Homo sapiens: one gene and its partner. Changing the gene in region 2 together with the main gene of any one other region gives a genetic interaction. Each region holds a gene or a part of one and is shown on either strand. Other genes may lie near its edges. The genes, in order: ATR and CDC45.

What was found.
Region 1: changes in CDC45 (region 2) and ATR are lethal when combined (synthetic lethality), as found in Homo sapiens cells (one large-scale study listed by BioGRID).

The regions. Positions count from the first base shown.
Region 1 is NC_000003.12:142,557,910-142,561,733, reverse strand, and holds part of ATR (serine/threonine-protein kinase ATR), read left to right. Parts: intron 1-312; coding exon 313-491; intron 492-1,279; coding exon 1,280-1,471; intron 1,472-2,292; coding exon 2,293-2,483; intron 2,484-2,957; coding exon 2,958-3,110; intron 3,111-3,824. UniProt on the Homo sapiens protein: Serine/threonine protein kinase which activates checkpoint signaling upon genotoxic stresses such as ionizing radiation (IR), ultraviolet light (UV), or DNA replication stalling, thereby acting as a DNA damage sensor.
Region 2 is NC_000022.11:19,482,920-19,486,743, reverse strand, and holds part of CDC45 (cell division control protein 45 homolog), read right to left. Parts: intron 2,883-3,824; coding exon 2,739-2,882; intron 1-2,738. UniProt on the Homo sapiens protein: Required for initiation of chromosomal DNA replication. Core component of CDC45-MCM-GINS (CMG) helicase, the molecular machine that unwinds template DNA during replication, and around which the replisome is built.

The DNA of each region.
Region 1 (3,824 bases), on a different chromosome or scaffold from region 2:
AAGTTACATGAAGAAAGTTGGTAATTCCCTTACAGAATTTTTTATAAGGGAATTAAAATTTATAGCATTTTGGTAAGAGGAAAAACAGGATGTAGAGAGAAGGATTTGTTTAAACCTTCTAAGACTATAGAACCATAGTCTATATATAGACTTAAATAATATAGATCAATTTAGATGTTTATTTTGCTTTATGAGACTCTAAAAGTAGTTTCACTAGAAAACACCTAACATCTAATACATTCTTGCTGCCTATGAATAATATAAATATATTTTCTAAGGAATATTTCTGGAAATTATTTTTTATTTTCTCAGTACTTGTTGGGCCCACTTTATGCAGCTTTGAAAATGGAAAGTATGGAAATCATTGAGGAGATTCAATGCCAAACTCAACAGGAAAACCTCAGCAGTAATAGTGATGGAATATCACCCAAAAGGCGTCGTCTCAGCTCGTCTCTAAACCCTTCTAAAAGAGCACCAAAACAGACTGAGGAGTATGATGACCTTCATTCAGTTTGTATTTAGCCATTAAATAAAACTTTGTTCACTTTTAAAAATCAGCTTTAGTTAAGTGCTTTGATTTAAATACACAAAGAACATCTTTCTAAATGTAGCCAAGGGAGTGCTTAAAATATTTTTATAATTATTGTAGACGGTTAGTAGTATAAAACATTTCATGGTTAAATATAGTTACTTTGCATGTTTTTATATGCTTATCTAATTTAACTTTTTAATATGTGAAAAATCTTTGAGACTGTGCATCTATTAGCAATTTTTAAAACATTAACCAACTATTTTTTATAAAGTGGCTAAGTTGCCATATTTCAGTTACTTCTGAACATTGTTTTAATTGTTTTAAATCTTAGTATAAATTTCAGGCTGGGCGCGGTGGCTCACGCCTGTAATCCCAGCACTTTGGGAGGCCGAGGCGGGCAGATCACGAGGTCAGAAGATCGAGATCATCCTGGCTAACACGGTGAAACCCTGTCTCTACTAAAAATACAAAAAATTAGCCAAGCGTGGTGGTTGGCGCCTGTAGTCCCAGCTACTCGGGAGGCTGAGGCAGGAGAATGGCGTGAACCCGGGAGGCGGAGCTTGCAGTGAGCCGAGATGGCGCCACTGCACTCCAGCCTGGGAGACAGAGTGAGACTCTGTCTCACAAAAAAAAAAAATTTTTTTGAATAGTTGATATTACATAGTATGTTTTATTCTAAATATGTTTCATGTTTTAACCAAATTTATATTGCATATGAATATCTCTCTACTATATTCATAATTATAGAATTAAACATGTGGACATGAACCAAAAGAGCATATTATGGAGTGCACTGAAACAGAAAGCTGAATCCCTTCAGATTTCCCTTGAATACAGTGGCCTAAAGAATCCTGTTATTGAGATGTTAGAAGGAATTGCTGTTGTCTTACAACTGACTGCTCTGTGTACTGTTCATTGTTCTCATCAAAACATGAACTGGTAAAACAAACTTCTTGTTTCTTGGGGTTGGGTTTCCTGTAATGAACTTGGATTTACTGTTTACTCATTATTCACTTGACTCATGTAACCTTAGAACACAAACTTTTCACTGAAGTAGTTAATAAATTTATTTTCTATTGAGTCAAATGCTAGGTACGGTGCTAAGCACTGTATATATCTTAGTTAATATTTACAATAGTCCTGTAAGGTAAAGGCTATTATGCCTATTTTAAAAATTAGAAACTGACACTCAGAGAAACTGAGGCTCTTTTTTGTCTGAAGCCAAAACTGACTTTCCTGGGGACACATGATTAGAAAGTACCAGAACACATTTGTGTACAACTCAAAACCCAGTGTTTGGCTGTTGAAGACAGGGTCTCGCTTTGTCTCCCAGGCTGGTGCACAGTGGCATGATCATGGCTCACTACAGCCTTGATCTCTATCCGGGGCTCAAGTGAGCCTCCCATGTAGCTGGAACTATAGGCATGTGCCGCCACACCCTAATTTAGAAAAAATTTTTTTTGTAGAGATGGGTTTCCCTATATTGGCCCGGCTGGTCTCAAACTCCTGGGCTCAAGTGATCCTCCCACCTCAGGCTCCCAAAGTCATTTGGTTCCCAAATCCTAAGGGTGATTTAAGCTGACATAAATAGATTCAACTTAAAATAGTAATAACATATTACTTGATTTGCATGTTTACTTTAAATTGTTATAGATAAATTTCGTACTCACAATTTCTTTTGGCTTTACTACAATTTTATGTTTGACTATAACAAAATTCATCTTAATTCCAATGTTTTTAACAAAATGTACTTACTGCAGCCGTACTTTCAAGGACTGTCAACATAAATCCAAGAAGAAACCTTCTGTAGTGATAACTTGGATGTCATTGGATTTTTACACAAAAGTGCTTAAGAGCTGTAGAAGTTTGTTAGAATCTGTTCAGAAACTGGACCTGGAGGCAACCATTGATAAGGTGGTGAAAATTTATGATGCTTTGATTTATATGCAAGGTGAGTACAAATTAGCAACAGATCAGAATAACCTTTAAAGATAATCAGTATAGAAATATGCTTTCTTTTTTGCCTGAAGCCTAAGTGCGTGTTTGGAATACTCAGAAGTTTTTTCCTGATTTCAGTTCTATTAAATTTGTCAATAATAGAAGTTCTGAGTTGCCAATTTATGTGCATAATATTTTGATTCTTTAGTCAATAGAAATTATTTATAACTTCAAAGTTTTTTAATTTGGGAGTTTGAGGAATGCCGTGATTCTTCTTTAAAACAGGCATAGATAACATGTTTTTATAAAGTCACATTTAATTTCTTTGGGTTCACAGACCTCAGACCATCGTTTATAGATCTCTGTGTTAAGAATTTCTGCTTATCCAATGATCATTATGATAGTATTTCAAATGTCTTTATTTTTATTTAAAAGAGATATGATTAAGGAAAAGTTATAATTAATGACTTATTTTGTGCTTCTGTAGTAAACAGTTCATTTGAAGATCATATCCTGGAAGATTTATGTGGTATGCTCTCACTTCCATGGATTTATTCCCATTCTGATGATGGCTGTTTAAAGTTGACCACATTTGCCGCTAATCTTCTAACATTAAGCTGTAGGATTTCAGATAGCTATTGTAAGTGCTCACAAGAATGTGTGTGTGGTTTGTTTTATTTATCTATCTATCTATCTATCTATCTATTTATTTATTTATTTATTTATTTATTTATTTATTTTTGAGACGGAGTCTTACTCTGTCGCCCATGCTGGAGTGCAGTGGCGCAATCTCGGCTTGCTGCAACCTCCGTCTTCAGGTTCAAGCAATTTTCCTGCCTCAGCCTCCTGAGTAGCTAGGATTACAGGTGCGCACCACCATACCCAGCTAATTCTTATATTTTTAGTAGAGGCGGGGTTTCACCATGTTAGCCAGGCTGGTCTCGAACTCCTGACCTCAAGTGATCCACCTGCCCCAGCCTTCTAAAGTGCTAGGATTACAGGCGTGAGCCACCATGCCTGGCCTTGTGTGGTTTGTTTTAACTCATCTCTATATAGGACTTCTAAGACTTATTTATATTTTTTTCAATAATTAAAAGAGCAGGTACATTTTTAATAGTTCAGAAGGGGGTTAGATACATAAAAAGTAACACATAAAAGCCTGCCCCACATATCCCATTTCCTTTCTTTTTGTAAAACATTTGCAATGTGTCCTTACATATCATTATCTTCATTTAATAAAATTAGGAAGTATTTGAGAAATATTTTAAAAAGAAGAACAATATACCAAAAATTCTTATACCAACTTCTCAGTTTAAGAAATAGAAACATTAGGCCAGGCACGGTGGCTCACGCC
Region 2 (3,824 bases):
ACCACTGCACTCCAGCCTGGGCGACAGAGCGAGACTCCGTCTCAAAAAAATATATATATACCTCTAATATACACATACTTAGTTATAAATCATGCACAGGTTTTAATTATATAAAAAGTATTCTTCTCAAGAATGCTTAATGTTATTAAAATCAACGCTCTAGACCTAATTTACAGATCATAGAAAATGCAGGGATAGAGAAGCAAGTTAAAGTACTCCATGAAGAAACAAGTAGTAGTAAATATTAGAAAAGAGAACTGGCCTTCAATGTCATTAAAAACAAAAGAAAAAAAAGAGGTAAGGTATGGTTCTAGGTTAAGACAGTAAAGAGGAATAGCTAAATGTCTTAATCTTGATTGGAGAATAGTTCAGAAATAAAAATAGCTGCAAAATATATTTTGAGGACAATTAAAGAGACCTGAATATGGGCTGAATATTACATGATATTAGGATATTATTAATTTCTTATGTATGACAATGGCATTGTGTTTATGGGGAAGAATGTCCTTATTCTTAGGAGCTGCTTATGAAAGAATGTGTAGAATATCATGGTTTCTGGCTGGCTGTGGCAGTGCATGCCTGTAATCCTAGCTACTTGGGAGGCTGAGGCAGGCGAATCGCTTGAACCCAGAAGACAGAGGTTGAAGGGAGCCGAGATCGTGCCACTGCACCCCAGCCTCAGTGACAGAGTGAGACTCCATCTCAAGAAAAAACAAAATAAAAAATAAAAAAGAATATCAGTTTCTGCAATCTATTCTCAAATAATACAGAAAAAAGAATACACAGAAAGAAAGCAAATGTGGCAAATGTGAAAAACTGTTTTTGTTTTTTTTGAGACAGGTTCTCTTCATGTTGCCCAGGCTGTTCTCAAATTCCTGGGCTTCATCAATCCTCCTGCCTTGGCCTCCCAAGTAGCTGAGACCACCTACAGTCATGATCCACTGTTGACTCTAGATTGAAGGTACATGGATATTCACTGTACTATCCTTTCAACCACTGTATACATTTCAAAAAATTTCAAAATAAAAAGTTGGTGGGAAATTATGCCTATTATAATCCATGAATATTATGTTAAACATTTACAAACACAAATTCCAAATTGATGTGTTAAGTATGTAAAAGGAAACGCTGATTATTTTCCTGTATCTCATCAAGACAACCTACCTTCTCTTTATTGCCAAACCCACTGGTCTGTTCTCATTTGCCTGTTCCTTTGGCACTGCTGGCCAAGCCTTCCTTGAAACTTTCCTTCCCACCTCAGAGCTGCAGTGTCTATGGATGCTCTGCCCAGGAATCCTCTTGGCTCCATCCCCTGCTAACTCATGTTTGATACCTGAAAGCTTTCCCTAATTGTGCTCATTTACATGATCAGTATCTGTCTCCCCCAATGGAAAGCTTTGCAAAGGCAGGACTTTGCTCTCATACCCGCACCCCAGGGCCTAACTGGTACCTGGCACATAGTAAGTGCTTAAAAAATATTTGTTTATTAGTCAGAGTGGAAAATTCCAAGACTTATCTGTAGAACATGAATGTTTCCCGGGAAATCCCATTGGATACTGACATTTGGGAACCAATGAAATGCAGCTCATCGATAGTTAAAAGAATGCTATATAAAAAAAAATTCAGAGAACAAAAAGGACCCCTCACAAACCAAAGATTAGAAGATAAAGACCAAGCTGAGTGTAGTGGCATGTGCTTAGTCTCAGCTACTTGGGAGGCTGAAGTGGGAAGATCGAGTGAGCCCGAAGTTTGAGGCCAGCCTGGGAAACAGAGAGAGACCCCGTCTGGGGAAAAAACAAAAAAAAAACAAAAAACAAAAAGTCTTCCAAAAAATAGAACAAAGAGCTGGGCAAGAGGTAAGAAAATATAACAGTGGGTCCAAGAGGTTCCCTATGAGACACCCAAACCTAGTGAAAGGGGTGACAAAGGTGAGAAAGAAGAGAGAAGCATGCCTCAGTTTGAAGGGCATTGCCCCTTCCCCAAATGAAGAATGTCTTGAACATCTCAAATATGGCTCAAAAAGGCTTCCCAAAAGCACATTACCGGGAAATGTCAGGCTGAGGATGAAGGGAAGACCCTAGAACATTACGGGGGCAAATTCTAGGTCACACACCAAGATCAGGAGCCAGAGGCCATCTTCAAAAGCATCACGTGGCCCTCCGTGCTATGGGAACAACCACCTTCTGCCTGTCATTTTACATCTTGCAGAAGCCGTAGTGTTGGGTAGGCCACTGGGCCCAGCCCCAGATCACTAAGCAGCTCAGACCCAAGGTCCACATGGTGAAAACCACTGGTATCTTCACATACAAGATACCTCCCCTGCAGTAATTGTCTGGGACTGGGCCTGGCCAAGGGATGCAGACCCACATTGCTCCTCTGCAGTGACTGCATAGTAAGTGATGCTAGAAGACAGTAGAAAAGGAAGGGGTGGGGGTTACACTATTTATTGCTTCTCTACATTATTTTTTTGCTATCTAGCCGCAGAGCTGAGCTGTCCTAAATTTCATTTCTTCTGACAGGATCCTATTGGACAGATAAGCCACTATTTAGGGAAGTCCAGTAACCTGCCTGAGGCCACATAACCAGGGGACAGCAGAGCCCAGGGTCAGCATCCATGCCTGCTAACTTTTCCACTTCCCACTGCCCTCAGTACACCTTGGCCTGGCAGGCTTCAGGATGACCTCCGACCTCTGGGAGTGCAAGTTCCTCTGGGATAGCTGTGAGAGACCCAAACTCACCTCTTCTAACCGTGTGCGCTTCTCAGAAGGCTCTGACCCATCACTGTCATTTCCTGAATGCTCTTCATCCTCCTCTTCATCCCTGAAGATGTCTTCATAGGCGGGAACTTCAAGGTCATCATCTTGTTTAATGAGTAATTTGATCTAAGTTCAAAACAAAAAGGAATTAAGCCTCTCCTCTTTCTACGGAAAACTATACAATATGTTCTTCTGCAGAATCTTATCATTTCCTAATAAGCTGACTCAGTTTCCTGTTCATACAAATAGCTACCTATTTAACAAGAGTTCCAGGCTTCTAAGGAATTTTCTTGTTTTCATTACCAGTGAGGCACCAGAGTTACACCATACGTGGTATGCAGAAATTATGAAAATCTGAAAACAGTTCTTTGAGAACCATCTAGTCTACTTAAGTCTGGAAACACAGCATCCTCTTACGTCATACACCAATAAAATGAACGCCCCACAACTTGGCCTCTGTCTGATATAGGACATGAAGATGTGTAACCCCTAAGTGGTGACTAAAACTCCTGTCTGAAAGCAACTCCAGGCTGATTTTTCTTTTCTTTTTTTTTTGGAGACGGAGTCTCGCTCTGTCGCCCAAGCTGGAGTGCAGTGGCACGATCTCGGCTCACTGCAAGCTCTGCCTCCTGGGTTCATGCCATTCTCCTGCCTCAGCCTCCTGAGTAGCTGGGACTACAAGCGTCCAACACTATGCCTGGCTAATTTTTTGTATTTTTAGTAGAGACGGGGTTTCACCATGTTAGCCAGGATGGTCTCAATCTTCTGACCTCGTAATCCGCCTGCCTCGGCCTCCCAAAGTGCTGGGATTACAGGCGTGAGCCACCGCGCCCAGCCAAGACTCCATTTCAACAAAAATAAAAACAAATATTTGCTGGGCGTGGTGGCATGTGCCTGTAGTCCCACCTACTAAGGAGGCTGAGGCAGGAAGGGTCAGTTGAACCCAGGAGTTTGAGGCTGCAGTGAGCCATGATTGTGCCAGTGTACTCCAGACTCTCCTTAAAAAAAAAAAAAAAAGATGACAAAGACCAAGTTCTTGTGTTCAGGCTGTTCCCAGTCCCACAGGGT